2 separate regions of the Homo sapiens genome follow, and region 2 is linked to region 1. The links come from fine-mapping of genetic effects on gene expression. A gene starts in region 1. The other region holds a variant in brackets. All regions are shown on one strand. Distances are from middle to middle.

What was found.
Region 2: its variant is fine-mapped to the expression of EGFL7 in whole blood (TOPMed, PIP above 0.99).

What each region holds. Positions count from the first base shown.
Region 1 is chr9:136,652,106-136,668,673 of GRCh38, reverse strand. It overlaps EGFL7 (EGF like domain multiple 7), which reads right to left and starts at 5,758. Exons shown (of 11, transcript NM_016215.5): 1 at 5,566-5,758; 2 at 5,051-5,266; 3 at 3,889-3,982; 4 at 312-433; 5 at 1-117. The coding sequence starts at 391. It overlaps LNCEGFL7OS (lncRNA EGFL7 opposite strand), which reads left to right and starts at 8,253. Exons shown (of 2, transcript NR_135132.1): 1 at 8,253-8,353. LOC102724193 (a long non-coding RNA gene) reads right to left here. Exons shown (of 4, transcript XR_930443.3): 3 at 15,156-15,278; 4 at 14,578-14,980. RefSeq lists an enhancer at 12,948-13,572.
Region 2 is chr9:136,698,705-136,710,803 of GRCh38, reverse strand. No RefSeq gene overlaps it. Among named protein-coding and RNA genes, the nearest start is that of DIPK1B, 7.8 kb to the left of the region's middle. RefSeq lists enhancers at 9,385-9,434, 9,475-9,634. The variant C/T (reference allele first, on the strand shown) is at 8,622.

The DNA.
Region 1 (16,568 bases):
CGGTAGGTGCTGCAGGCCCGGTGCCCGTCGCAGGTGGTGAGGAAGGGCTGGTACACACGCTGCACGAACGACTCGGAGACAGGGTCCCCGTGAGCCCGGACAGCACACACCCTACGGCTGCGGGGGTGGAGAGGGGGTCAGCCCAGGAGTCCCAGAGCAGGACCCAAGAATGATGGGAACATGTGGCCGGGGCAGGACCCTCAGCAGGAGCCCCCAGGGAGTCCCCGACAGGTGCTGAGGGCCGCCTCTAGGAGGTGCTGAGGGCTCCCGGTCCCCCCACCCCAGCACTCCCAGGCTAGGGCTTGGCTCACCCGGGCCGGTAGGCGTGCTCTGTGCCGCCCACTGCCAACACCAGAAGCCACATCAGCAGCACCTCCTGAGAGCCCCTCATGGCCTGTGCCTCCAGGCGGGGTGGCCTTCTCCTCTGGGTGGCCTGGGGCACAAAGCATGACCCCTAAGTCTCCCCGCAGATGCCCCCAGGACGCGGGTGCAGTTTGCACTTGCTCCGCGAGGCCTGCCCAGCTCATCTCCGCTGGAGCCTCCACCGGTGGGACAGCCCCACGGTGGCGCCCACTCTCTCCTCCGCTGGCCCCCTCTTCCAGCTAGCCAGACCCTCGCCAGGCACAAACAGCTGGGGCCACAGCCTGGGGGCACAGGGGGGGTGACGCTGTCCAGAGCTCTTGGTGCAGGAATCGAGTGGATCCTGCTGGGCATCTGCCCGAGGCTCCGGGAAGGATGGCTCCAGCTACGGGTGGCCGTTTCTCCTGTCCTGCCTGGTTCCAGGGCCCTCCTCACAGCAGGGCAGGGGTGAGTTTGCACCCCAGTCTATGCAAACGGGGTGTTCGTGGGCAGAGCTGGGATCCAGCCCCACCAGGGACCTGCCGGCCTCAGCCCTTCTGGAATTTGATTTCTCATCTGAGTGTGGAACCGGCCCCAGCAGGTGGGCCAGCAGCTGCAAGCCAGCAGGAACCGTGCGGAGGGTGCACACATTCTAAGACCACCAGAGGGGCGGCCTTCATTTTAGAGGGGGTCCTTCCCAGGCTGGGATATGTGTGCAATCAGCCTCCAGGGATCCTGGGACAGTGGCTGTGCCAGGTGCACACCTGGGGGTGAGGAGCAGCCCCCGACAGTGTCACCGGAACCGGAATCCAACCCCCTCCTGGCTGTGCAGCAGGAGCCAGGGGCCCGGGTGAGGCTTCCTGAGAGCATGAGAGCCCAGAATTAATGGTCTGTGGCAATGCCGGGGATGGGGATTCTGTCCTATGCGCAGCCAGGGGTCTGGAGACCTGGCGAGCCCCTGCCATGCTGCAGGGTCCCACCCAGGGCCTCTCACGGGTGCTTCCCAAAGGCTGGGTGGGTTCCTTCCGAGGCACTGCAGGGCCCTCCGCAGGGAAAGGCCAGGCTTCGGGTCGGGGCAGAGGCTGGGGTAAGGCTGTCCCTTCTCTGGGATTCAGTTTCCTCACACACTAGAATAGGGTCTCTGAGGCCCCTCCTCAGCTCTGACAGCCAGTCCTATAAATAGTCACACTGTCCTCAGTCGCTGCTGGCCAGCCCCACTGGGTGTGGAGCACGATCCCACACCTGCTTCCCACGGGCACTGCCAAGGCATCACCCGGTCCCAGCGGGGAGGGTGGCTGGGGGTCCTTCCTGGGCCTCCAGTCCTCTGTGCGCTGGAGAGAGGAGGGCAGGGCAGAGGCTGCCAACTAGGCAGAGGCTGCCCTGGGCAGCTGAGGGGTGGGGACTTAGCTTGGGGGCAGGGGGGGCATCACAGCAGTTTTTGGGCAGGAGTTTGTCGAGGGGGCAGAGCTGGCTGGAGATTAACTCTGGGGATGGGCCCTGGATGAAGGACACTGTTAGGGGCTGGGTCTGGTGCGACCTCAAGGCAAGACTCGAAGTCGGGGGACATTGGGGAGTGGGACCCGGGAAGGAAGAGGTAGGGCAGCGGCCCGGCGGCTTGATGTGGGCAGGGGGATGCCAGGGCGGGCCTGGGGGTAGGCGAATCTCCCAGACCTCATTGCCCCCCACACATATTGGCACAGCTCCCCCCCACAATTCCTGAGAGTCGCCTGGACAGGAAGCGGTGCTAAGTGGAGACTCAATTTTTGAAAGTCATGTTTTCCCGAGGCCAGAGGAAGCCCGTGGTGCTCTCCGAGCCGGTGCTGCAAGCCCCATTTCCCCGGGGGGGGCCACGGCCTCGACCCAGGGGTGCCGGGCGGGGAGGGGGCGGCGGCGCCAGGTGGACCAGCAGTCCGGTCCCCGTGCCCCCAGCGCCCACGGGCTCCCTCCCCACCTGCCCGGCAGCAGCCCCGCAGCCCCCACCCGCGAGAGGCCGGGTCCGCAGAGGGAGGGGCCTGGCTGCGCCGCAGGCACTGGCGGACCCCTCGCGGCGGGAGCAGGGCTGGGGACCGCGGGGCCCACGAGGGAGGGCGCAGAGGCGGAGCGAGACGGACCTGCCCGCCGCCCCCTCCCAGCCGCGCTGCTGGCTCCGGGGTTCGCGGGGGGCGGAGCAGGCGGCACAGGCTGGGCCCCGAGGCGCTGAGTCGCGCCGGGTCGGACGAGGGGCCGCGGCGACCCCGGCCCTCCCCGCCGCGCCGCCCGCCCGCCCGCCGCCGGCAGGGGGAGCCGGTTCCCGGGGCCGCTGGGCCCATTCTCCCGGCCCGGCCCGACCCAGCCGCGGGCGCCCCGGCCCGCTCCGCCCCCGGCCCCAGCGGTCGCGCTGCCTCGTCCCGGAGCCGCCCCCAGCTCCGCGCGCGGCCAGGTTCCCCGCCCCCGGGGGCTCCGCGGGTCCCGCCCTCGACCCAGCCCGGGCGGCGACCGGACCCCGACCCCGGCGCGCCCCGCTCGCTCCGCACTCACCGCCGGATCCGGGGCGCGCACGCGCCGCCGCCACTGCCGCCCGAGCCCGCGCCGTGGGGGCCCCGAGCCCCGCCCCGCCCCGCCCCCGGCCCCGCCCCACCTGGCGGCCCCGCCCCGCCCCCATTGCGCAGACGGGGAAACTGAGGCCCCGCGGCGGACGAGCTGCCCCCGGGCGGGCAGTGACTCTGCTGGAACCCGGGGCTGACGCAAACGCGCCTCTGAGCCGCGGCCCGCCAGCACCCCCTCCGGGAATCCTGGGGCCCGAGTCCCCGCGGCAGGGCGCTCGCTGCGCGGTCGCTGGGGACGCACGACCAAGCCCGGCCGCCAGGAGCCAGGAGAGGCCGCCCAGGGCGCCCACACTGACGGGGCTGCGGGCCCTTTGCTAGCTTTCAAGCCCCCCAGGCTGAAAACCACCCCGGGACGCCCATCTCAGCCGCTGGGGGGCCGCGCGGTAGGCGCCCGGCGCAGGTTAGCACTGAGCTGGGTCCTGCAGCCTCGCAGGCAGTGGGCATCATGACCGTCCCCACCGCAGGCCCAGAGACCCAGATCTCCTCTGAGACCACATGGCAGAGCCCAGGCCTGCCTCCTAGCCTTAGCGTGTTAGGTTGGGGGCCCCTGCGCCGGCCCCCACCTGGCCCTCTCTCAGGCATCAGGCACCCTCACCGGGGTCACTGGGTCACTGCTGAGTTCAGCACAGTCAGGGCCATCGCAGAACACTCCTCCCAGCGAATCCACAGGCCCCCAGAGAGTCTCCTCACACCAGAGGTCCCTGGGCTGGTCACCTCTCTTCTCCAGGCCTCCATTTCCAAATTTATAAGATGGGGCTAAACAGCCCTGGGATCTAGTGACGGTGAGGTCGTGGCCACACAACAATTGTTACAGCTGTTACTGCGGGCGCGGCACGTGGGGCTCGGGCCAGCCCAATTCAGCAGCCCCTCAGACCCCAGCCGGAGCCAGCGCCCTGTGTCATAACCCGCGTGGGCGCCGGTGTGAGAAGTGTTCCCTCGGAGCAAGGGGTTTGCTGGGACTCACCTGGCGGAGGAGAATCAGTCATCCCCCGGACAGGGGCAGGAGCTGCTCCTCCGGGTGGTGGGGGCCACCTGTGCCTCCCCGGTCCTGGGGGCTGCTGGTTGGAGAGGAGTTGTGGGTTAGTGCCTATGCACAGTCCTGGTCACCCTGATGTCTGGGGGCTGGGAAGGGGCCCGGGACCAGCTTTCGGTGCTGCTGTGGGACCTCCGCCTGCACTAGGCCTACAGGCCCCTGTCCTGCACCTACCCCGACCCCATCCTGTCCTGAGCTGATTGTCCTCTCGGATCCGCAGCCCCTGGCCTCAGTAAAATGGGGTTATTGCCTCCAGCCCTGGACTCCCTGGCATGGGGATGGGAGGCTGCTGTGAGTGGAGCTGGAGGTCTCTCCATGTAACCCAGGGTGCTGGGCAAGGGGCCTGCAGATGGGTCCGAGAGGGCCACCAGCTTGGTCCTACCTTGGTGCATGGGAGCTGGAGGAAGGGAGGGGCCCAGGTCCCTGGAGAGGAGTCCCCAAAATGAGGCCGCCCCACCCTGCAATCCAGTGGCCACTGCTCTGGACCAGGGGCCCTGGAAGCCCCTGGCACGTGGTCCAAGGGACGACCAGAGCAGCTGCTGTCAGGGGGCGTTCCTCATCTGACTGGGGAGTCCTAGGCCTCCTGGCGCCCTGAGCCCACGCAGGGCAGCTCTTACCTAGCCCCCAGCAGTGAAGTGTTCAGAGTGGGGCCTAGGGGGCCTCTGGGTGGGAGAGCCACCGCCACCCTCCCTGTCCCCTGCCCCTGGCCTCATCTCTGGATCTGCGGTCACTTAACCCTTTGACCTGCCTCCCCACCTCTCCTGCCTGAGTCTGGAAGAGGCGATGGAGCAGAAAGGGCAGCTCCAGGGCTGCCCCGACTCAGCCCTCGCTGCCCCCATCCTGGCTAGGCACCATTTGGAAAGTGGGGGTTCTCAGACAGGCTTCTTGGTGTGGACGTATGAGACAAAAAGTGGGGCCTTCTAGGACCCACTGTGGTTTTGGGGGCTTTGGGATGGGGCTTCAGCCACTCTGCATGAGGCTGGGGAGAGGGAGAACAAGGGCGTCTCCAGGGTCCAAGGGGGGCCCACAGAGTCACCCATTTGCCCACCGCACCCAGCAAGTCATCCCTAAGCCCGAGCCCCACGTCCCGCACCCTGGATTCACACTGCTCATCCTGGCTACAGATGTGGCTTTGGGGTTCCTCTCCCTCGGGGCCAGTTCCCCTCCCCGGGCCCCCGTTGGGTTGCTCATCCACTGCTAGGGAGAAGATGAGGAGACCTCAGCCCTCGGGACACCGCAGGGCGTAGCGCGAAGCCCCTCACAGCGGGCCCAGCCAAGCTGAACTTTGCTGCCAACCACAGGGGCTGCTCTGCGGAGGGAGAGAAAGGCCAGAGGGTGGGGTTCAGGGGAAGGGCGACTGGGGGTGAAGTGTTGGAGTCAGCAGACTGGATTGGGATCTACGCTGGGCCACCCACTAGCAGGCGTTTGGCCAAGGGGCCTCAGTGGCCTCCTCTGTGCAGAAGGGGAGGAGACTGGGACCCCTCCCCTGTGACCTCGCTGGGGAGCAGATTGCGGAGCAGCCAGCAGGCGCCACGGTCAGCGGGAGTGAGGGGAATGGGGGGCCCGCCCTGTCCGCTCCCTGCCCCTCCGAGGCCACCCCTGCCATACCTGATGCTGCTGGAGCCCAGGCGTGGCCATGGTGGCCGCTGCTGTGTCCTGGGACTGGAGATGGACCCTAGCCCTTGCTGGGGCCTCAGGCCCACTGGCCGCCTGGAGGCACCTCCTGAGGCCCACCTGCCTGGCCTGTCCACAGGAGCCTCCCTTGCAGCCGTGCAGGGCCAGCTTGGTGCAGGGAGGCTCCCCCCGGGCGAGGAAGGGCGGCTTTTTATGCTCCGTCCTGGGTAATCGGGATTGGGATGGGCCCTTCCCAGCCGGACTTCCTGTGTGTGTTCTCCGCTGATAACGGGGACGTGTCGTCGGACAAACAGGAGGCTGAGGGGGGTGGGGGCCACCGTGTGAGGGGGCCTGGACAAACTGCCCAGGGGTGGGGAAGCCGTCCCCTGGGCCATCAGAGTCTAGCCCCAAAACAGCCAGAAACCAGGGCTGGACCCTGCTGGAGACCCTGGGGAGAGTGTGGGGTGGAGGACGCAAGCCCAGGGCCCTCCCAGGACCGTGGGTTCACAGGCCATGCTCACGTGTGGCTGGACAGAAGGGAGCTGCTGCATCTTTGGGCCAAGGATGCTGGGCCCTCCCCCAGGACACCCCCAGATGTGTGTGACACAGCACGGGAGCTTGGAGGGGCCCCAGGCCAAGGCAGGGACCAGCCACACAGGAGCCTTGACCAGTGAGGGATGGCGAGTGGCGAGGCCCGGCAGGAAGGGACTGGGGTGGCAAGACAGGCTGAGCGGTCCGAGAACAGCCTGTTCCGTGGGTCCCTGAGGCCCATGGTGAGGGGGTGACGGGAGGGGACAAGCATGGAGTCCAAGCTCTCTCCCCTAAAAGAGCTGCCAGTGAGGCTGTGAGCCCCTGCCCTGGAGATGGGCAAGCAGGCCCAATGCCCTCAGCCCCACTTCACAGGGGTGCTCTGGGCTGGCAGCAGGCTGCGGCCGGGGGTGTGGGGAGGGATGCGGGACACTGTGGGTGATCACAGGGGGTGCTCTGTCAGATTCCCGGCGTCCCAGCCTCCAGGTCTGACCCTCATCTTCCCTGTTCACACGGCAGTGGGAGCCTCAGGCCGAGCGAGCCACTGTGGCAAAGGTGGGCTGGGTGGGAGGGGACACGGTGCCGAAGGGAGCTGGGTGGCTTTGGAGGGCACGCCTGGAACCCCAGGAGAGCAGGGCCTCTCCCAACCCCGCTGTCCGTGGGGTGTGAGCCCTGCTTTGGGGTCAGCCCCTGTCGGCCTGATGCCTGGGACACCCCCATTTCCCTGGCCCTGGGCGGTCAGTGTGCCCCCACCTCTCCAGCCCCACTCAGCTGGGCAACTTGAGCCAAGGGAGGCTGGGGCAGCTGGGGAAATTCCCCACGGGACTTTGGAGGGCAGGTGGAAACCTCACCCACACGCGATGCGCCTCCCCCTCAAGCAGGAACCAGCTCCCCTCTACCCACGGCCAGGGGAAGGGTCTGCTCTGGGCGCCAGGCTGTGGTCAGGGCTCAGGGCCTCAGCCAGGCAGGACCTCACTCTTCTCCGGGCCTGTTTCTGCACCTGCTTCATGGTCACTGAGCTGGTTTAAGGGGGCGCTCCTGGCACCCAGGCACCGCTGGTCTGAGCGGGAGGGGCCTCTTTCCAGAGGTGGCCCCTGCCCTGAGGTTGGAGCAGATAGGCAGAACCCCATTTCCCCACCTCCTCCACACTAGGCCACCCTGGGATCTGGCCCTTACCCTACTGGCTGCACCCTCAGCCGCCCTGTGCCTCCCTCGGCCCCCTGGCTCTCCCACCCAGGGGCTCATCCTGCCCTGGCCAGCCTGTCCCTCCAGCTGTCAGGAGGGGGTTGCAGTGAAGAACAAGTTGGCAGCAGGCCGGGCCCAGTCCCCCAGGCTGTCACCCAGGAGTCCAGTGCCAGGAGGACAGCCTGGGGAGGACCCAGACTCTGCCCTCGCCCCTGGCTGTAAGCACAGCAGTCAGTTCACCGGGAAGGCCCCCAGCGGGCCAAGCCTTAGCAACTCGTGCACTCGGCTACTTAGCTACTCCACCGTATAGGGGCCCAGTAGGCTTGTGCCCCCATCCCAGGAGGTGCCCTCTTGCCCTCTGCCTGCATCCCTGCGGCCTGCCCCCTCCTCCCCCACCTGCATGCCCCTGGATCTGCCCTGGCCTCCTGGTGGAAGGACCCACAAGCATGGGGTGGGCTAGATCCAGCCCTTTCTGTGTACAGAGGGGGAAACTGAGGCCCAGAGGGAGAAGTGACCGGCCCAGGTGAGCCTGGAGGCCGGACAGGGCTGGGATGCTCGGCACAGGAGGCTGCCTCACCCTTCCTTCCTCTTCTTGGGGAGCCCCATGTCCCCCACCCCAGCTTGTCCTATGTCCCAACCTGGAGCAGCCCCTGTCATCAGACCTATCCGGCCAGGGGACAGCTCGGGGCAGGAATAGCTAAGTAGCCGAGTGCACGAGTTGCTAAGGCTTGGCCCGCTGGGGGCCTTCCCGGTGAACTGACTGCTGTGCTTACAGGCAAGGGGCGAGGGCAGAGTCTGCGTCCTCCCCAGGCTGTCCTCCTGGCACTGGACTCCTGGGTGACAGCCTGGGGGGCTGGGCACCGCCTGCTGCCAACTTGTTCTTCACTGCAACCCCCTCCTGATAAGCTCTGCCCTGCCCCCAGCCCCTCCCCAGGCCAAGACTAGACCCTCCCCAAGGGAAGGAGGCCTGGGCTCAGGCCCAGAGTGCCAGCTTTGCCCTATCCCATAGCCTGGAGCCACCACAGGAGGGGCACTCCACTCTCTTGGGCTCCTGGAGCCTCAGAGGCAGGTACAGGAGGTGGGCTGCGGCCTTGCCCTAATGTCGGGGGCCCAGCGGGGACAGGAGGGGCGGGGGGTTGGCAGGGGACAGACATGGGTTCTTGGACGCCAGAGGGTACTGGGGGTCCAGGGGGTTGGGGCTGCCCCCGGGTTCTGGTATGGGTGGAGCACACTCTGTGCCCAAGGCCCAGGGGCTCAGCAAGGGGCAGGCGGGCCCCTCCCTCACCCTCCGGTCCTTGGAGGTGCCCCCTTCCCTGCCCTGGCCGCTCTGGTGGTGTGTGTTTGGGATCATGGCACAGACCTTCAGCAGGGAATCATTTTGGGAGTCAGCAGTGCCTCCTGCCCAGGCTCCAGCCCCACAGAAGCCAGGCCGGGCCCCACGCCTGGCCTCCTCCCCTCACCTCAGGGGCCCAGCACAGAGGGGGAGACCTGGTGGGAGAGTGTGGCCACCCCAAGGCCTGCGCCTGTCCTCATCTGGGCACTGGAAGGTCTGGAGCCCAGGGCTTCACCCTGCCTGGGGTGGTGTCAGAGGTGGAGGCCCGGCAGGGGCAGGAAGCTGGAGCTCTGGTCCCAGCTTTGTGCCCCACACAGGCCTCAGTTTCCCCATTGTCTCTCTTGTCAGCAGGGCCATGTTGTCCAGTGGCCTTCCAGCCACCTGGGAATGTTCTGAGGTTAGTTATAAGGGGAAGGGCTGCCTTACCTTCCCAGAGCGTGCTGGCTGGGCAGAGAGGCGTGGAGGGGCCTGGCAGAGCCCCCCGGGCCCTCCCGGGCCTCCCGGACCCCTCACCAGGGTGCTTTTGGCCTCTGAAGCCCCAGGAGAGGGCAGACTAAGCCCCTGGCAGAGGCCAGCCTGGGCATCTCAGGTGGCGCGAGACAGAGGGGCACCAGGCGCGGCCGCGGGAGCCGGGCTGCAGGAGGTGCAGGAGGAGGGAGTGAAGCAGAGTGCGGGAGGGATGGGGCTTCCTGTTTACCCCGAGCGCCCCCCGGCCTCGGACGGGCTGGCTCTGTCAGCCACGGATGTGGTGGAACCTTCCCATCAGAGGACGTCCCGGACCCGACGGGGGCTGGAGGGAGCTGCCAGGCAGGGGTGCCTGCGGGCAGAGGAGCCGTCTGCTCCCGAGCGAGGGTTTGGGCAGGGAGAAGTGAGGGTCCCCAGCCTTTCCTCTCACCTCTCCCTGCCTGCTCCGGCCCCTGACCCACGTCCCAGAGCGACACCCTCTGAGTTGAGGGGCTTCCATTTTCAGAGGAGGCAGCTGGCTCACAGGTGGAAGCCGCTTGTTCAAGGGTGGAAAACGGAGGCCCAGGACTGGAGTCCGGGCGCCTGAGCCTCGGGGGTCGCCCGGGGGACCCCTCGCCCTTCCCCTGGCCGCTCCCGTCTCCCTTCCTGGGGCTGCCCACTGCTCCAGCTGATGGCGTGGAGGAGTCCATGGCCTTGTGGGCTGGCTTCTTGGCAGGTCCCCACCGGCTTTGCATCTGAGTGTCCCCTTCTCCTGACATTGCCCCTACCCTGGTCCGGTCCACCCCGCTTCCTGCCTGGATAACAGTCGCCCCTCCTCGGCCTTGCTGGGCGCCGCTGCCCTTCACACCCAGTGCTCAGGGAGTTTCGCGGAGGGACACATCGGGTTGTGTGACCTCCTCCTAAGGCGCCACCACACTCAGCACAAAGTCCAGTCCTGCCGGTGCTCCATGCCCCTGCCCGGGTGCGCGCTCCACAGGGCAGGGACCCGGACCTGGAAGAGGTGACTTGGAGCAGGTGCGCAGAAAGTGCGGAGTCCCCCACTGCGCCGGGCGTGTCACCCGTTGGTGGCCTGGCAAACTTGAACTGCAGCGAGACGTGGGCTTAGAGATGGGAAAGTGAACCTGAGAGGGGCCGGCAGCCCGGGCAGGAGACACAGCCCCTTGGCCACACCCCAGGGGACCGGCATGCCCCACTGCTGGCAGCAGGTGATGGGAGCATCCCTGGGAGAACAGACTCCCCCCAGTTCTGCACACACTGCTGGTGCCTTGGAGCTCTTACCAGCCTGGGGGCTTAGCTTTGAACATCTTCGTGTTATCTTTTGGCAGACGTGAAGATAAATGCAGTTCCCTTAGGCTGTCCCTGGGGGGTCCCCAGTCCCAGGAGGGGCAGGAAGCCAGGGAATGCCCTGCAGTTCTCAGGTCCCCTGCCAGCAGTGCAGGAGCATTTGGCCGCCCCACACCCTTGTCAGCACTTGCTGTTGTCTGTCTTTTTCATTTTAGCCATTCTGATGATTTTGCAGTGGTATTGCTGTATTGTTATTTTTGTTCATGTAGGAAGGTGAAGAAAATCTTATTTTTTAAACGGCAGAATCCGTCCCTAGGGAGAGACTTGCTTCACAGGGGAGACACCTGGCTGGGGTGAGAGCGCAGTGTGGGCTCAGGGGGCTGTGTGCTGCAGGCTCCGTGGATGTCCCCAGCAGCACCCAGGGAGTCTGGAGGGGAGGAGAGAGAAGAGGCCTCCACTGTGGAGTGAGCCTGGGAGAGGGGTCCCCAGATGGACACTGGGTGCTGCCTGGCAGCTCACGAGGTGGGCACTGGTGGTCTGACTTGAGAAAGCCTTGTGGAGCAGCGTGAGCCCCAGATGGAGCCCCTAGTGTGTGGGGCACCCCTCCCCTGGGGATGCCTGTGCTTCTGGGGTCTGTGGGCTTCTGGGAAGGGTGTGGGGGGTCCCTCCCTGGAGGCTTCATCCCTGTCTCTCTTGCGGGGTTGTCATAGAGCTCCAGTAGAGTCAGGGACCATGGGTGCCCTGAAGGCTTCTCTGCCTCAGTTTCCCCTCGTGTCAGACCAGGGCATGGAGGGTCTTCGGAGCCCTGGGGAGGGTCCCGGGGTCTCCAGTTCCCAGTCATGGGGCAGACAGTTTGTGCCTGGGTCCTTCCCAGGAGGGAGGAAGGAGGGGTCCGTAGCTTCCAGCAGATTCTTGAAGGAGGGTCATGTGACCCTCGAGTGAGTTCAGAGTCCCCACCCAATGCAGCTGCCAGGGCCTCGCGTGTCCCTTCGGGGTCCTCAGCGCCACGAACGGGGCTGGTCCCAGTGTCCAGCTTCTGGGATCCCGCTCCTGCAGGCCCTGGAGACTGCTTCCCACCCCTGCTGAGGTTCCCATGGGGCTGAGGAAGGGGGACTTGCCGGCCCCCTGAGGCTGCCCTCACGCCTGGCGCCAGTACATGGCACAGAAGTCCCACTCGGTGGGCTGTGATTTGCCCAGGCCCGACAGATGGGGCAGCCGTTAACGTCAAGAGGAAAAAGCACTTCATCTCCCGCGACGGAAGGAGAAGTTCCCGAGAGCTCAGGGCCTGTGGGGCAGCCAGTTGAGGTGGCGGCAGTTCAGCAGCCCGGCCCCCAGCTGGAGCCGCCCTGTCCTCTCCCCACCTGCCCGCCTGGGGAGATCTGGGGGCCGCCCTGTCCTCTCCCCGCCTGCCCGTGTGGGGAGAGCTGGGGACCAGGCGCTCCAAGCTTTTAGGGGAGAAAATAGCGGGAGAGACGGTGTACGCCTGTGAGCAGGTGCTGCGTTCGGGTGTCTCCTCCTGGGGCCGTTGCCCTGGCCCTGCGAAGTGGAGGCAATGATCTGACCCCATCTACAGATGAGGAAACTGAGGCCCCATGGGAGTGGCTGCTCAAGCTCCCAGGGCCTTCCCCGGCAGGGCTGGACTGGAACCCAGAGCCACAGGGACCCCAGTCTCCGCAAGGCACAGTGGTGGGGGGCCCCTCCCCTGGGGATGCCCGTGTGTCTGGGGTCTGTGGGCTTCTGGGAAGGGTGTGAGGGTCCCTCCCTGGAGGCTTCATCCCTGTCTCTCTTGCGGGGTTGTCATAGAGCTCCGGTAGGGTCAGGGACCATAGGTGCCCTGAAAGCTTGTCTGCCTCAGTTTCCCCACGTGTCAGATCAGGGCGTGGAGGGTCTTGGGAGTCCTGGGGAGGGTGCCGGGGTCTCCCTGTTCCCAGTCACAGTGCACACAGTTTATGCCTGGGCCCTTCCCTGGTGGGGAGGGAGGAGGGGTCCATAGCTTCCAGCAGATTCTCGAAGGAGGGTCAACAGAGCCCCATGCAGGTGGCCCTGGGCTTCCTCCAGTCCCCGAGTCCACACTCCTCAGCACCAAGGCTGCCGTCATATTATCACTATTATTTAATACCCTTAAAAAATGTAAAGAGAGAAAGGGAAAAAAAGGCATCTGCCTGGTCAGGAATCTCTGTTTCCTCTCAGCCAGGAAACAGGAAGTGAGTGTTCGGGGAGATTGGGAACCAGCCCTCGAGAACAATAGAGCCCCCCCAGAGCCCCCCAGAGGGGAAGGGGAACTGCGTCAAGGGGTGGGGGCTGCCGGAAGCCTGACCTCTGCCCCGCCAAGCGCAGAGGGGGCCTGAGGCATAAATTTAGTCTCCTTTTCCTGATGAAAGGCTCAGATGCCCTACTGCTGGGGCTGGGGGGAGGGCAAGGCTGGCCTGGGTCCCTGGGGCCTTAGGGACCATCTAACTGTGCCCTCCTTTCACCTATGGGTAAACTGAGGCCCAAAGAGGGGAAGAGCCCTGTCTGGGGGACTGAGGGTGCCGAGCTCCCGTGGCTGTCTCGTTGGGGCTGCAGGCTTTGCTCGGCTTAACACCTGCTGGACCTGGGCACCCCCTCACGTCCCTGAATAAACATAGCGGGTTCTGGTGGAGGCGGGAGGGCAGTGCGGGCCCCTGCAGCCAGCCCTGGCCATTCCTGCCAGCCGTGTGACCCCAGGCAACGCCTCACCTCTCGAGCCTGGCTTTCCCAAGTCACCCTGGCCCGGAGCAGCCTGAGAGGCAAGGCTGCCACCAGCCCGTGCTCCCTCCAGCCCTGCCAGGTGTGCGTCCCCACCTTAGCACCTTGCAGTCTCCACCCCAGCACCCTGTCCTGCATCTCTCCACACCAGCACCCTGCACCCCTGCATCCTAGCGCCCTGTCCTGCATGTCTCCACACCAGCTCCCTGTCCTGCTCTGGGGGGCGGCTCCTTCACTCCCCACTAGTGCCCTAGGGTGACTGTGTGAAGGTGGTCCGGGCCCTTCCCCAGGCAGGGAGGGGACACGGGGCAGGTCCCTCCCCAGGCCCTGGCCATGACTCTGCATCAGGCAGGACACCCCCATGCCTATATCCTTGCTGCTGCCACTGGCCACCATCCTGGCCCAGGTGACACCAACTGGACTCTCAGCCGGGATGCTGCAAACCCGCCCAGCACCATCAGGCCTCTTGGGGGGGACTGCAGCTTCCTGAGCCACCCCTGCCTGGGCAATGACTGGAAACTCCTCTCTCAGGCTGCCCGGCAGACCCCCACACTGCCGGGATGGGGAGGGCTGCTCTGCCTAAGGGGCCTGCCCATCTGTCTGCCCGTGGACCCTACTCCACGCAGGCCTGGGTGGCCGGAGCGTTCAGGAAGCAGGTCAGGGCAGCAGGCCATGCCAGCCTCGGCCTCCCTCCCAGCCACCAGCAAAGCCTGAGGGTTCAGGGATGGCAGCTGATGATGGTGATGCTGATGATGGTGACAATGATGGCGGCGGCCACAGTGGCACCACAGTCTGCACCCCCAGCCGGCTCCCCCAACCACTCCAGCAGCAGGGATTTTTTTTTTTTTTTTTTTTTTTGTGACGGAGTCTCTCTCTGTCTCCCAGGCTGGAGCGCGGTGGTGCGATCTTGGCTCACTGCAAGCTCCGCCCCCCGGGTTCACGCCATTCTCCTGCCTCAGCCTCCCGAGTAGCTGGGACTACAGGCACCCCCCACCACACCCGGCTAATTTTTTGTATTTTTAGTAGAGACGGGGTTTCACTGTGTTAGCCAGGATGGTCTCGATCTCCTGACCTCGTGATCCGCCCGCCTCGGCCTCCCAAAGTGCTGGGATTCCAGGCGTGAGCCACCACGCCCGGCCAGCGGCAGGGATTTTTAAAGGAACGACATCCAGCAGGAAGGGCGAACCCTCCCCTCCTGGGCCCTTCCCTGGCCCTGGCTTCCCTGGGATGAGGGGTGGCTAGGTGTCCGCCTCGCAGGGCTGCAGGGGCCCAGGACACGGGGGAGGGGGGCTGATTCCAGCCAACCCACAGCAGGCCTCCACCCCAGGAGCCAGAGGGGATGCGCTCTCTAGCCTCTTCCACAGCCCTCCCGGGGGTGGTGGGCTGGGTTTGGCGGAGGGTCTCGGGGCTGTGTGCAGGGCTGTTACCGGCAGGTGCTGGGAGGTGGGGGGTGGCTGGGGCAGGACGGGAAGGTCACTCTAGCCTGAGGATAATTTCTACTTTATTTTACAATTCCAAAATGAAGAGTGATTTTCTTGCTTCTTGTTTGAGCTGGGCTGTGACATGTGCTTCCTCTCGAAGAGCCAGTGGATTTGATGAGAAGCACCGAGAGCACCGCCCGGCTCCCGGCATCTGCGAGGCCTCGCACAGGTCCTGTTCTGACGGCAGCGCTGATCAACGCTCTCCACAAACCCCACGAGGGTCGGAGGCGTCCGCATCACCTGCCCGCATACGGGGAAGGGCTGGGAGGCTGCAGGGCTGAGTCACCGCCGGGCACCCACTCCCTGCCAGCCCCCGGGAAGGACAGGGGCAGACGCGGCTCTTTCGCTTAGCCTCAGGGAGGTGGAATCACACAATTTTAGAGCCTTTATTTTAAGGAAAAGAGAGCTGCGTAAAAATAAATAAAAAAATAAATAAAGAGACTTTATTTTAGGGCAGTTGTAGGCTTACAGCCAAATTGAGAGAAGGTACAGAGGTCCCACGCCACAGCCCCCGCCCCGACGTGCGCAGCTCCCCCTGCACCGGAGCGGTTCGTCTGTGACGTGGGTGAACCTGCACTCACATGTCGCAGTCACCCGGGGCCCACGGTGTAATTGGGGTCACTCCGTGTAGCACATTCAGGGTCTGGGCAAGTGTATGAGGGCACGTGGCTGCCAGGACAGTATCAGGCACGGACGTCTCTGCCCTAAAATCGTCCGAGAGGCACCCTCTTTACGTGGACAGTTTAATGCATTTGGGCAAATGAGCACCCCCGTGTAATCGTCACCGCCAAGGATGGATAGGATGTTTCCCACCCCTCCGAAGCCCCTCACACTCTGCCTGACCCCTGGCAGCCCCGACGTGCTCTCTGCTGCTCCTGGGAGATTTGTGTTGTGGAAGCCAAGTGGCCAGTGCCCTGTGCCCAGCACGATGGCTTTTCTTTTTTTTTTGAGACAGAGTCTTACTCTGTAGCCCAGGCTGGAGTGCAGTGGCACAATCCTAGCTCATTGCAACCTCCGCTTCCCTGGTTCAAGCGATTCTCCTGCCTCAGCCTTCTGAGTAGCTGGGATTACAGGTGTACACCACCATGCCCGGCTAATTTTAGTAGAGATGGGGTTTCACCATGTTGGTCAGGACAGTCTCGATCTCCTGACCTCAGGTGATCCGCTTGCCTTGGCCTCCCAAAGTGCTGGGATTATAGGTGTGAGCCACTGCGCGTGGCCGTGATGGGTTAGGGTTGGTCAGTGCTGTGTGTGTCTGTGACTCAGTACTGCTTCGTAGGAGTCCACAGTCTGAGTGGGCCATGGTTCATTCATTCATTCATTCATTCATTTAGAGATGGAGTCTGGCTCTGTCGCCCAGGCTGGAGTGCAGTGGCACGATCTCAGCTCACTGCAAGCTCTGCCTCCTGGGTTCACGCCATTCTCCTGCCTCAGCCTCCCACGTAGCTGGGACTACAGGCACCCGCCACCACACCTGGCTAATTTTTTAAATTTTTAGTAGAGACAGGGTTTCACTGTGTTAGCCAGGATGGTCTTGATCTCCTGACCTCGTGATCTGTCTGCCTCGGCCTCCCAAAGTGCTGGGATTACAGGTGTGAGCCACCGCACCCGGCCTATTTATTTATTTTTTGATACAGGGTCTCACTCTGTCACCCAGGCTGGAGTGCGGCGGCGCAATCTCAGCTCACTGCAACTTCCGCCTCTGTGGTTCAAGTGATTCTCTGCCTCAGCCTCTCGAGTAGCTGGGATAACAGGCACACGCCACCACGCCCAACTCCAGGGCCACAGTTTATATGAACACATTTTAATTTCAGAGAGAAGAGAGTTTGGAAAAAAATTTAAAAATAATAACAAACAAAGAAAGGGTCCCTCCACTTCTCACAAGACTCAACATAGGATTACCACAGTCTCCAAAACTCCACGCTAGGTACATTCCCCTAGAGCAGGGATTCAAACAGACGCGCAATGTACACACAGCGTTGTGCTCACAGGAG
Region 2 (12,099 bases), 44 kb before region 1:
GGATTCTGGGCGTGAGTGAGCCACTGCCACCAGCCCGGATCGTGCTCTGAGTGTGTCATCTCTAAGAAATTTTTGCCTAACCGAAGGTCACAAAGGTTTTCTGTGCTTTCTTCTAGAAGTTGTATAGTATTCGGCTTCATATTTAAGTCAATGACCCAATTCCAGTTAACTTTTGTGTATTGTGCAGGGTGTGGATCAGAGGGTTTTCAGTTTGGGGCTTGGGGGTTTTGTTAGCATTTTTTGCACATGGACATCCAATCCTTCTGGCATCATCTGTTGAAAGGATGAGCCCCTCCCCACAGAATTGCATGGCAGGGAGTTAAACAGAGAGGGACAAGGCCAGGGGGCAATGGGGTCAGGGTTCTATGCCAGGTATAGAAAGGAGGGGTGGGCCTGGGGGTGTGGCAGTGGCCTAGGCCAGCGACCTGGATGGACAGGGCTGGAGGCAACGTGAGGAAGGGGAGAGGGGCCAGTGGGAGAAAGTAGCAGGCAGACCCTCCCAGTCTCAGTGACCCCCAAGGTAGCCGTAGCCCAGGCTGGGAAGAGGGACTGCCATGTCCCCAAGTGACCTTTCCTCTCTCCCTCGATCCAAGCACTGTCTCTCTGCCAGCGAGGGTCCCGGAGCCCAAGAAAGGGAAGAGCAGTACGAGAGGGTGGGACACAGAGCACAAGCACCAAGAGGCCAACACGTAGGCTTCTCCCGGCCTGGAGGGAGGCCTTGCCATGTTTACAGCTGGGAGAGCATGTGCTTCCCTGCATGGCCTGTCCTCCTCCTGCAGGAGGGCTGTCCCAGGGCCAGGGGGAGTGGGTGCAGGGCAGTGGTGGTCGGTCCGGCCTGCAGGGAGCTCAGCTGGAGGGTGCAGGAGCCCACACCTTCCGTCAATGTGAGCCAGGCCAAGACCGCGGCCAAGAAAGTTCTGGAGGGTCTCCCGAGGAGGGCTTCCTGGGGGAGGGGCGCAGGAGAGCGTGATCCGTGGGTCAGGATCTGGGGAAGGTGTGGGCCATGAGAAGGATGAGCGCAGCCTCAGTGCCACTCCCAGGCTGCCAGGAGGGAGATGGCCCGCCCTGGGAGGAGTGCCTGGTGAGCGCATAGCCGGCCCTGGGTGACCCTGTCCCCGAGATCTTCCAAAAAGGCATTTCCCAGCAGGGCCCGCGGGACGCGGTGCTCCCTCCAGGCAGGGACCAGTGACCACGTTCTCCTTTGCATCTGCAGGCCTGGCCCAGAACCTGCACACTGTCCGTGGCCACTAGCCCATCAAGTGTTCATGGAATGGGCACTGGCCGGGTTCCAGTTCAGTTTGAATGGGTCTAGTTCTCGTTTTGGGGCCCTTGTTTCTACGCCACCAATGGGTGACATCCACCTGCCTGGAACATGAATGGGGCAGAGGACCCGGGAGGTGCTGACTGGTATCTCAGGTGTGGGGGCGGGAACTGGGCCGTGCCTTGCTGTTTCTAGGGCCTTTCGTGGCCTGAGGCCCTGAGCTCAAACCCTGGCCAGGGCAAACGACAGGTAAACGAAAGGTCCACTGCACAGACACAGACGCAGAGACACAGGATCACACACACCTTCGGGGCAGGCTCCGGGGACAATTCTGAAAGTGGAGGACCTTCCTGCCCTGTCTTTCCTTCCCATTCGTCCTGAGGCCTGGGAGTTTCCTCCCCAAGCAGGGGGCCCATTGCTCTCCCTGCCCTGCTGCAAAACTGGCATGTCCCATTCCAACTGCTATAACTGCGTCTCTTCCCCAGGCATCCCCTACTCACACCCAGACCTTTTTTTTGAGATAGAGTCTCGCTCCGTTGCCCAGGTTGGAGTGCAGTGGGGCAATCTCAGCTCACTGCAAGCTCCGCCTCCTGGGTTCACGCCTTTCTCCTGCCTCAGCCTCCCGAGTAGCTGGGACTACAGGCGCCTGCCACGGCGCCCAGCTAATTTTTTGTATTTTTAGTAGAGACGGAGTTTCACTGTGTTAGCCAGGATGGTCTCGATCTCCTGACCTCGTGATCCGCCCGCTTCGGCCTCCCAAAGTGCTGGGATTACAGGCGTGAGCCACCACGCCTGGCCTTTTTTTGTATTTTTAGTAGAGACGTGCTGAGACCAGCTCAGTCAGGGAGACCCTATCCGAGCGGCGTTAGAGGAATTAAAGACACACACAGAGAAATATAGAGGTGTGAAATAGGAAATCGGGTCTCACAGCCTTCAGAGCTGAGAGCCTCGAACAGAGATTTACCCACGTATTTATTGACAGCAAGCCGGTGAGCACACCAGGTGAGCAGCCGTTTAGGGGGCCCTGGTGGATCGAGGGCCCTGGAGAGCCACGAGCTTTCCCTCAGACGGTGGAGTGCGGCGCGTCAAGTTTCCCCCAAAGGGAGAGCTGCCACTTCCGATGAGAAGCTGACATATCACCGGGGACCCGCCCGCTGCTGTTGAATACAGAGTCTTCTGTTTGCAAAGAGAAGCTCTAGGGCCCTCCTTCCTTGTGGTGGTTGTGTCTGAGTTGAAAACCCTCCGAATGGGACTGTCAGGCTCCAGTCACAAGGCCTCCGTGGTCAGGTGGTTCACTGGGACAAGAGCTCGTTGTAAGCTAATTTTGCTTTTTGAAAACAAGGGGTGAACCTAGTAGTCGTGTCAGAGAGTCAGTGAATCCACCACCCCAAGGGGCACATCTGGGCAGAGGCTGTTTTCTTTCTCTGGAGTTTCCAGATAACGGGATCGTCAGCCACAGGGACTTGTCGTTCAAAGGGATCACAGGGCTGTGAGGCCCCAGCGGGAGAGAGAGTGGCCTGTGGCTCACGGGGCGGCAGCTGGAATAGCCTGTTGGTTCAGGCCCTGACGTAAGCAGGCTGATTTGTGGGTTCACTAATTTATTTTATTTATATTATTATTTTTTTGATACCAAGTCTTACTCTGTTGCCCAGGCTGGAATGTAGTGGTGTGATCTCGGCTCACTGCAACCTCCACCTCCCAGGTGCAAGCGATTCTCCTGCCTCGGCCTCCCGAGTAGCTGGGATTACGGGCACACACCACCACGTCTGGCTAATTTTTATATTTTTAGTAGAGACAGGGTTTTGCTATGTTGGCCAGGCTGGTCTCAAATTCCTGACCTCAGGTGGTCCACCCCCCTCGGCCTCCCAAAGTTCTGGGATTACCGGCGTGAGCCACCTCGCCCGACCTGGATTCACTAATTTAAGAAGCCAAGTCGAATGCCCAAATGAAGCACATCCTGTCTCCAACACCCACACAGTCCAATCAAGTGCTGGGTTGTCCTTTTGGGTGAGATGAGGGAGCAAAGAGACAACAGGTTTTCCTTGACTGGCTGAGGCAGTGAGTGCTGTGGACCCACCTCCACCTACCTCATCCCAAGAAACTCCACCTGGTGAGGCAGCCACTGGACGCTGTTGATGTTTTGCCTGCCTCTGTGGACAGGGAGGTATGAGAGTACCCCCGTCTAGTTGTCTAGTTCTAGAGACCCAAGGCTTCTGAGCTGCCAACCTGCAGGACATCATCTGTATCATGGCACCTGTGGACATCAGAAGTCCTAACCTGCCCACAGGTGGCCAGTGGCGGGGCGTGTACGGGGAACACACCTAAGTGTATTGGAGACCTGGCCATGTGAATGCAAGCTGGTCTTGCTCCTCCCCTGCCAGTGGTGTGGCAAAAAGGCATTGGCAGGATCCAAGACAGTGTACCAAGTACCCGGAGCCCACGTGATGGGCTCGGTATGGTCACAGTGTGTAGGACAGCTAGGGCTCTGGGAGCAATGGCTGACTTCTGTTGGTGGTAATCCACTGTCAGCCACCAGCAGCTCTTACCTGCTCCACTGGCCACTCAGGGATGTTGTGTTGCCATATTTCATCTCTTTTTTTTTTTTTTGACACGGAGTGTCACCCAGTGATTGTCACCCAGGCTGGAGTGCAGTGGCGTGATCTCGGCTCACTGCAGCCTCTGCCTCCTGGGTTCACATGATTCTCCTGCCTCAGCCTCGCGAGTAGCTGGAACTATAGGGGCCCGCCACTATGCCCAGCTAATTTTTGTAGTTTTAGTAGAGACTGGGTTTCTCCATGTTGGCCAGGCTGGTCTTGAACTCCTGACCTCAGATGATTCACCCGCCTCGGCTTCCCAAAGTGCTGGGATTAGAAGCTTGAGCCACCACGACCAGCCTTTATTTTTTTGAGGCAGACTCTCACCCTGTTGTCCAGGCTGGAGTGCAGTGGCACGATCTCGGCTCACTGCAACCTCCACCTCCCGGGTTCAAGTGATGGGTTCAAGGGATTCTTATGCCTCAGCCTCCCGAATAGCTGGGACTATAGGTGCCCGCCACCACACCTGGCTAATTTTTTTGTATTTTTAGTAGAGACGGGGTTTCACCATGTTGACCAGGCTGGTCTCTAACTCCTGGTGTCAAGTGATCTACCGGCCTCAGTCTCTCAAAGTGCTGGGATTACAGGCGTGAGCCACCACGCCCAGCCCCATATTTCATCTCTTAGTCCCCCTACTGCCCTTAATCCCTCAATCAAACCTCTGATGCGCCTTTTTCCCTCTGGGATTCTGTACCGCTTCTGGGATTCTGTACCCGCCCTGAAAGCGGGTTGCAGAGAGATTCACACATCCCACTGGCCCTTCTCTGCATTCAGTGCTTGCCAATAGGGAGAGTCCCCTCTGGCACGTACAGGATGGAAGTATGGGGATGAAACACAGCTCCTACGCGGCAACACACACATAGAAGCATCAAAAACAGGGCATCGAATTGGCCCAAAATGCCACACCCACAAGATCACATCAGCCTTCACTCCCCATTTCAAACCGTGCACAAATCCGGTGAGCGGAATCCAGAGAACTTTTCCTTCCACTGGTCCAAACAGGAGAGTGATGTGGGCTACTCATATCCGACAGAGCCATAAAGTTTGAGTTCTTCTTCTCCTCCAAGTTCTCCAGCACACTTGGATGGTGCCCACGGCCTGGGAACCTCTAATCATCTTTCTTCCTAACGTAAGTGGAGGGGGGTGAGAGGTGGAAGGAGGAAGTCCATGAACAAGGTTCTGCGTTTATTTTCAGGCAGCGTGGCAACGGCTCATGACTCAGCCAGGGACTGTTCCATGATTTTCAATCCATCCAATGCTCCGTACCAGGCAGTGAGCTTCTCACAGCTGACCCATCTACTTCAGTTTTGGGAGCCCCATGGCTTAGTAGCCATTGCCATGTTGTTTTCAGCTGGATCTGTGGAGTTTGCACCATTTGGCCAACTCGAGCTTGGTGTCCCAGTGGCAATCTTATTTGAGGATTCTTCCTACTTTAGACAAAATAGATGTAACAGAGTTGATTTGAGCATTAAAGGAGGCATGAATCAGGCAGCACTCAAAGGTGGAAGAGGCTCTGGGAGCTCTGTCTTAGCAGTGTGAGCAGCAGGCTTTTACAGGCTGAATGTGGAAGTGAAGTACGGAAATAACTCAAGGCCAGGCTAGGCACCGTGGCTCACACCTGTAATCCCAGCAGTTTGGGAGGCCGAGGCAGGCAGATCACATGAGGTCAGGAGTTCAAGACCAGCCTGGCCAACATGGTGAAACCCCGTCTTTACTAAAAATACAAAAATTAGCTGGGCATGGTGGTGTGCACCTGTAATCCCAGCTAATCGGGAGGCTGAGGCAGGAGAATCGCTTGAACCCAGGAGGCGGAGGTTGCAGTGAGCCGAGATCACACCACTGCACTCCAGCCTGAGCAACAGAGCATGACTCTGTCTCAAAAAAAAAAAAAAAAAAGAAAAAGAAAAAAAAAAGAAAAGAAATAACTCAAGACCTTTGCCTTATTTGGGTGTGGTCTGATTGGTTGGCTGCCCGTGATTGATTGGTTGAAACCTGGCTATCTGTTAACAAACTACTGAATAAAGTTGTTGTTGGTTAGTGGGAACTCCCAGTACAGAGACGGCCTCAGGCAATGACTGCTCCTTATTTTGCTTTAAACAACTTTAATCTAGCCGGGCAGGGCATGGTGGCTCACGCCTGTAATCCCAGCCTTTTGGGAGGCCGAGGCGGGCAGATCACCTGAGGTCAGGAGTTCCAGACCAGCCTGGCCACCATGGTGAAAGTCCTTCTCTACCAAAAATACAGAAATTAGCCACGCATGGTGGCAGGTGCATGTAGTCCCAGCTACTCGGGAGGCTGAGGCAGAAGAATCGCTTGAACCTGGGAAGCAGGGGTTGCAGTGAGTCAAGATCGTGTCACTGCACTCCAGCCTGGGTGACAAGAGCAAAACTCATCTCAAAATAAATAAATAGATAAATATAAATAAATAAAATTCAGTGGTGCCTCTTCCTCCTGCTCCAGCCACGTAGGACACACCTGTGTCCCCTTCACCTTCTGCCACGATGATGTTTCCTGAGGCCTCCCCAAAAGCAGAAGCCGCTATGCTTTCTGTACAGTCTGAGGAACTGTGGGCCAATTCAACCTCTTTTCTTTCTAAATTACCCAGTCTCAGGTATTTCTTTGTACCCATGTGAGAATGGACTAATATAGATGGTTTTGGGAGGTGGTGCCTTTGGGAGGTGACAAGGTCATAAGGGTGGAGTTCTCATGAATGAGATCAGGGCCTTTATAAAGGAGACCCCTGGCCGGGCACGGGGCCTCAAGCCTGTAATCCCAGCACTTTGGGAGGCCGAGGCAGGTGAATCACCTGAGGTCAGGAGTTCGAGATCGGCCTGGCCAACATGGTGAAACCCCGTCTCTACTAAAAATACAAAAATCAGCCTGGGGTGGTGGCGGGCACCTGTAATCCCAGCTACTCGGGAGGCTGGGGCAGGAGAGTCACTTGAACCCGGGAGGCGGAGGTTGCAGTGAGCCAAGATTGCGCCATTACACTCCAACCTGGGCAACAAGAGCGAAACTCCATCTCAAAAAAAAAAAAGAAGAGACCCCCACCCCGGCTGCCAGGAGACCCCTGACTGCATTCACCACGTGACGTCTATCAGGAGGCGGGCGCTCACCAGACACGGAATCTGCCTGCACCTCGATATTGGACTTTCTGGCCTCCATCACTGTGAGAAATGCATTTCCATTGTTTGTAAGCCACCTGGCTTGTGGTGTTTTGTCAAAGCTGACTAGGACAGTCACTTTCCCTTCACCAGGACTGCAAACCCCGTGTCTCAACTGTGGCTTCCTGTGAGTTTGTCTGTCAGCAAAACCTCCTGAAATGGGCCAGAGCCCCCCTTAGAGCAGCAGGACATGCCACAGACTTCAGAGACCTTTCACTGTGCCCCCAGGACAGATCTAGAGTTGGCTGGAAAGGTGCAGGAGCAGCTGGGCCATGCCTCCTTAATAACACTGGGGGCTCCACCCCCATCTGTCAAGGGAACCAAAGCTCCAAGGACTTCCTAGTTTCTGCCCTCGGTGGGAGTGCAGCTGCGGTCAGGAGACCTACACATCTGTGACTGTCAGAGCGGCAAGACCTTCTGCTCGCAGAGACACATCTTTTCTTTCTCTCTTTCTTTCTTTTGAGACAGAGTCTCGCTCTTGTCGCCCAGATTGGAGTGCTGTGGTGTGATCTCGGCTCACCGCAACCTCCGCCTCCCTGGTTCAAGCAATTCTCCTGCCTCAGCCTCCCGAGTAGCTGGGATTACAGGCATCTGCCACCAGGCCCAGCTAATTTTTTGTAGTTTTAGTAGAGATGGGATTTCACCTTGTTGGCCAGGCTGGTCTCGAACTCCTGACCTCAGGTGATCCACCCGCCTTGGCCTCCCAGAGTGCTGGGGTTACAGGCGTGAGCCACCGCGCCCGGCCCTCTAAATCATTTTTAAGCACACAGTCAGTGACATTAGGTATGTTCACATTGTTGTACAGCCCTCACTGCCATCTGGCTCCAGAACTTTTCCATCTTGTAAAACTATCTTGAACTATACAGGTGCAGTGGCTCACACCTGTAATCCCAGCACTTTGGGAGGCCGAGGCGGGCAGATCACCTGAGGTCAAGAGTTTGAGACCAGCCTGGCCAACATGGTGAAAACCCATCTCTACTAAAAATACAAATATTAGCTGGGTGTGGTGGTGGGCGCCTATAATCCCAGCTACTCGGGAGGCCGAGGCAGGAGAATCGCGGGAACCGGGGAGACGGAGGTTGCAGAGAGCCGAGATCGCGCCATTTTACTCCAGCCTGGGTGACAGAGTGAGACTCCATCTCAAAAAAAAAAAAAAAAAAAAAAAGGCAAAATTGATCTCACTCGAGGTCTTTAACCTAATTACAGCTGTAAAGACCCCATTTCCACAGAAAGTTACATTTACACATTCCAGGGGGACTTATCTTTTGGGGGGCACCATTTAACCCACTGCAGTATCAAAATCAAGGTGCAGGGCAGCACGTGCAGTGTGGTACCATTTTCATTTTTGTCATTTAGCTCTGTGTGTGTGTGTGCACATGGGTGTGTGCCCGCGTGCGTGTGTGTGTGTGTGTGTCAATCTCCCTGTGTTCCTTCCATGTATAGGTGATTGAACCTCTCTTGCTATTTTTTTTTTTTTTATCCGAGACAGAGTTTCACTTTTGTCACCCAGGCTGGAGTGCAGTGGCACGATCTCGGCTCACTGCAACCTCCACCTCCCAGGTTCAAGCAATTCTCCTGCCTCAGCCTCCTGAGTAGCTGGGA[C/T]TACAGGCGCGCACCACCATGCCCGGCTAATTTTTTGTATTTTTAGTAGAGATGGAGTTTCACCATGTTGGCCAGGCTGGTCTCGAACCCCTGACCTCAGGTGGTCCACCCGCCTTGGCCTCCGAAAGTGCTGGGATTACAGACGTGAGCCACCATATCCAGCCCTCTCTTGCTATTTGCAAAGGTGTAAGTGGGGGGACTGAATCGTGTCCCCACTAAATTCCTTCCTGGAAGCCCTAACCTGCAAGGAGAGGGTATTGACGATGTAGCCTATGGGAGGTGCCTGGGGGTGGATGAGGTCATGAGGGTGGGCCTTAGTAGAAAGGGCACAGGTGCCCTCCCCTTATTCCTTATCCCACCCTCGCGTCAGGACGCAGCAAGAAGGCACTAGAGAAGGGAGGCAGGGCTGAGAACGGGGAAAAGGGCTGGATCCTTAGAGAGGCCAGGGCTGGGAACCTCAGGCGGGTTCCCAGGATCTGCCAGGAAGAGGACCCTCACCAGAGCCGGACCACGGGGCGCCCCCACCCCCAGCCTCCAGACCCGTGGGGAGGAAACGTCTGCTTTGTGAGGATGTCCTGGCCGGCGGAGACAAACCTGAATCCTGCGGGCGCTGGGGCCCCCGGATCCTCCACAGCTGCTCAAAATGAGGGTGACGCAGAGAGACACCACAATAAACTCGAAAGTAGCAGACGGTGAAACCGTCTCCATGCTGTCAACGTGTGAGCAACGTTCAGCGTCCGAGTCACAGGGAACACAGGAGGCCATCCCACCGAGCGGGGCTGTGACTCGTGTTCATAACTGTCATCACCCTAGTACCTGCCGCTCCTCCTGGAGAAAATTCGGATGTCCCAGGTGGGCTGAAGCACACAGGAAGGTGGGGGTGGAGAGACAAGGGAGGCAGGGCTGAGCACAGAGCTGCGTCCTTCGAGAGGCTGGGGCCGGGAACCTCAGGCGGGTTCCTCTAAAACAGCCCTTGTCGCTGTTGTTCATGTCCTTATCACCGACGTCTTGAACGTTCATTGTAAAATATGCAGGTTCATCTGAGGCAGGACAGGCGGTCGAGGAAGTGACCGTGTCCTCGGAACGTGGCAACCGCGGTGACCCCACAGTCAACACAATAAGCCCTAGCGTTGGCACTGTAGTCCCACTCACTCAAGCGCAGCTGTCTCCAGTAGGGGCTTTCCCTGTAGACAGCATGAGCTTTTTTTTTTTTTTTTTGAGGTGGAGTCTCGCTCTGTCTCCCAGGATGGAGTGCAGTGGGGCAACCTTGGCCCAGTGCAACCTCCACCTCCCAGGTTCAAGCGATTCTCGTGCCTCAGCCTCCCGAGTAGCTGGGATTACAGGCACCTGCCAGCACACCTGGCTGATTTTTTTTTTTTTTTTGGAGACACAGTCTTGCTGTATCCTCCAGGCTGCAGTGCAGTGGTGCGATCTCGGCTCACTGCAACCTCCATCTCCCGGGTTCAAGCAATTCTCGTGCCACAGCCTCCCGAGTAGCTGGGATTACAGGCATGTACCACCACGCCCAGCTAACGTTTTATTTTTAGTAGAGATGGGATCTCACTATGCTGTCCAGGCTGGTCTCAAACTCCTGGCCTCAAGTGATCCTCCCCCATCTCGCCTCCCAAAGTGCCGGGATTCCAGGCGTGAGGCCCTGTGCCCGGCCAGAGGAATGAAGTTCTGGCCCAGGCTATGTGGGTGAGTCGTGAAGCTGTCATGCTGAGTGAAAGAATCCAGGCACAAAGGTCCACATGGTCCTGATTCCGCTTCTATGAAATTTCCAGAACGGGCAAATCCACAGACACACGAAGATGAGTGGTTGCCATGGGCTGGGGGAGGGAGCAGTGGGGAGCGAGTGCCTATGGGGAAGGCGTTTCCCTTTGGGGGGATGAAAATGTTCTGGAGGTGATGGTTGCAAAACATTGGAGGCGTTGCAAAAAACTGAAAGTGCTAAATTATACACTTTTTTTTTTTTTTGAGATGGAGTCTCACTCTGTTGCCCAGGCTGGAGTGCAATGGTACCATCTTGGCTCACTGCAACTTCCGCCTCCTGGGTTCACGTGATTCTCCCGCCTCGGCCTCCCAGGTAGCTGGGATTACAGGCATGCGCCACCACACCCAGCTAATTTTTGTATTTTTAGTAGAGACAGTGTTTTACCATGTTGGCCAGGCTGGTCTCGAACTCCTGATCTCAGGTGATCTGCCCACCTCAGCCTCTCAAGGTGTCAGGATTACAGGCATGAGCCACTGTGCCCGGCCAAATTGTACACTTTAGAATAATTTTATGTTACATGAATTTCACTTCAATAAAAAAATATAGGTAAGGGCTGGGTGCGGTGGCTCACGCCTGTAATCACAGCACTTTGGGAGGCTGAAGCGGGCGGATCACTTGAGGTCAGGAGTTCGCGAATAGCCTGGCAAACATGGTGAAACCCCGTCTCTACTAAAAATACAAAAATTAGCTGGGCATGGTGATGGGCATCTGTAATTCCAGCTACTCGGGAAGCTGAGGCAGGAGAATCGCTTGAACCCAGAGGCGGAGGCTGCAGTGAGCCGAGATCACACCATTGCACTCCAGCCTGGGCAACACAGGGAGACTCCATCTCAAAAAAAAAAATACAGGTAAGCAAAAATAAGTAAAGTCAGCTGTGACCTGGCCATCCGACAGATGGAATCACTGTGGAACCCAAATGTGTATCCTTCCAGATTGAGACCTTTTTTTTTTGAGACGGAGTTTCGCTCTTGTTTCCCAGGCTGGAGTGGAGTGCAGTGGCACCATCTCGGCTCACTGCAACTTCTGCCTTCCGGGTACAAGCGATTCTCCTGCCTCCGCCTCCTGAGTAGCTGGGATTACAGGCGCCTGCCACCACGCACAGCTAATTTTTTGTATTTTTAGTAGAGATGGGGTTTCTCCATGTTAGTCAGGCTGGTCTGGAACTCCCAACCTCAGGTGATCTGTTGGCCTCGGCCTCCCAAAGAGCTGGGATTACAGGCATGACAGATTGGGAACTTTTGACTATATGTACACACACACAGTCACACAGCCGTAAAAACATACACAGGCACAGACATATGCATTTGGCATAAAGGGGCTACTTTACCTTGTTGCTTTTTTCAAAAGAACTGAGGGTCTCAGCCATATTATTGGGAATCACATGTTCTTTTTTTTTTTTTTTTTTTTATTGATCATTCTTGGGTGTTTCTCGCAGAGGGGGATTTGGCAGGGTCATAGGACAATAGTGGAGGGAAGGTCAGCAGATAAACAAGTGAACAAAGGTCTCTGGTTTTCCTAGGCAGAGGACCCTGCGGCCTTCCGCACGCAGCGTTTGGGGAATCACATGTTCTAAGCAAAGTTTTAAACATGATGTTTTCCTGCTGATGATATGTAAAAGAAATTGTGTAACCACTAACATAAAAGCAAAGCTTCCCTTGGGCATCAAAAAGACTGTTTTTTCCCCAACATCGTGGACTTCGTGAG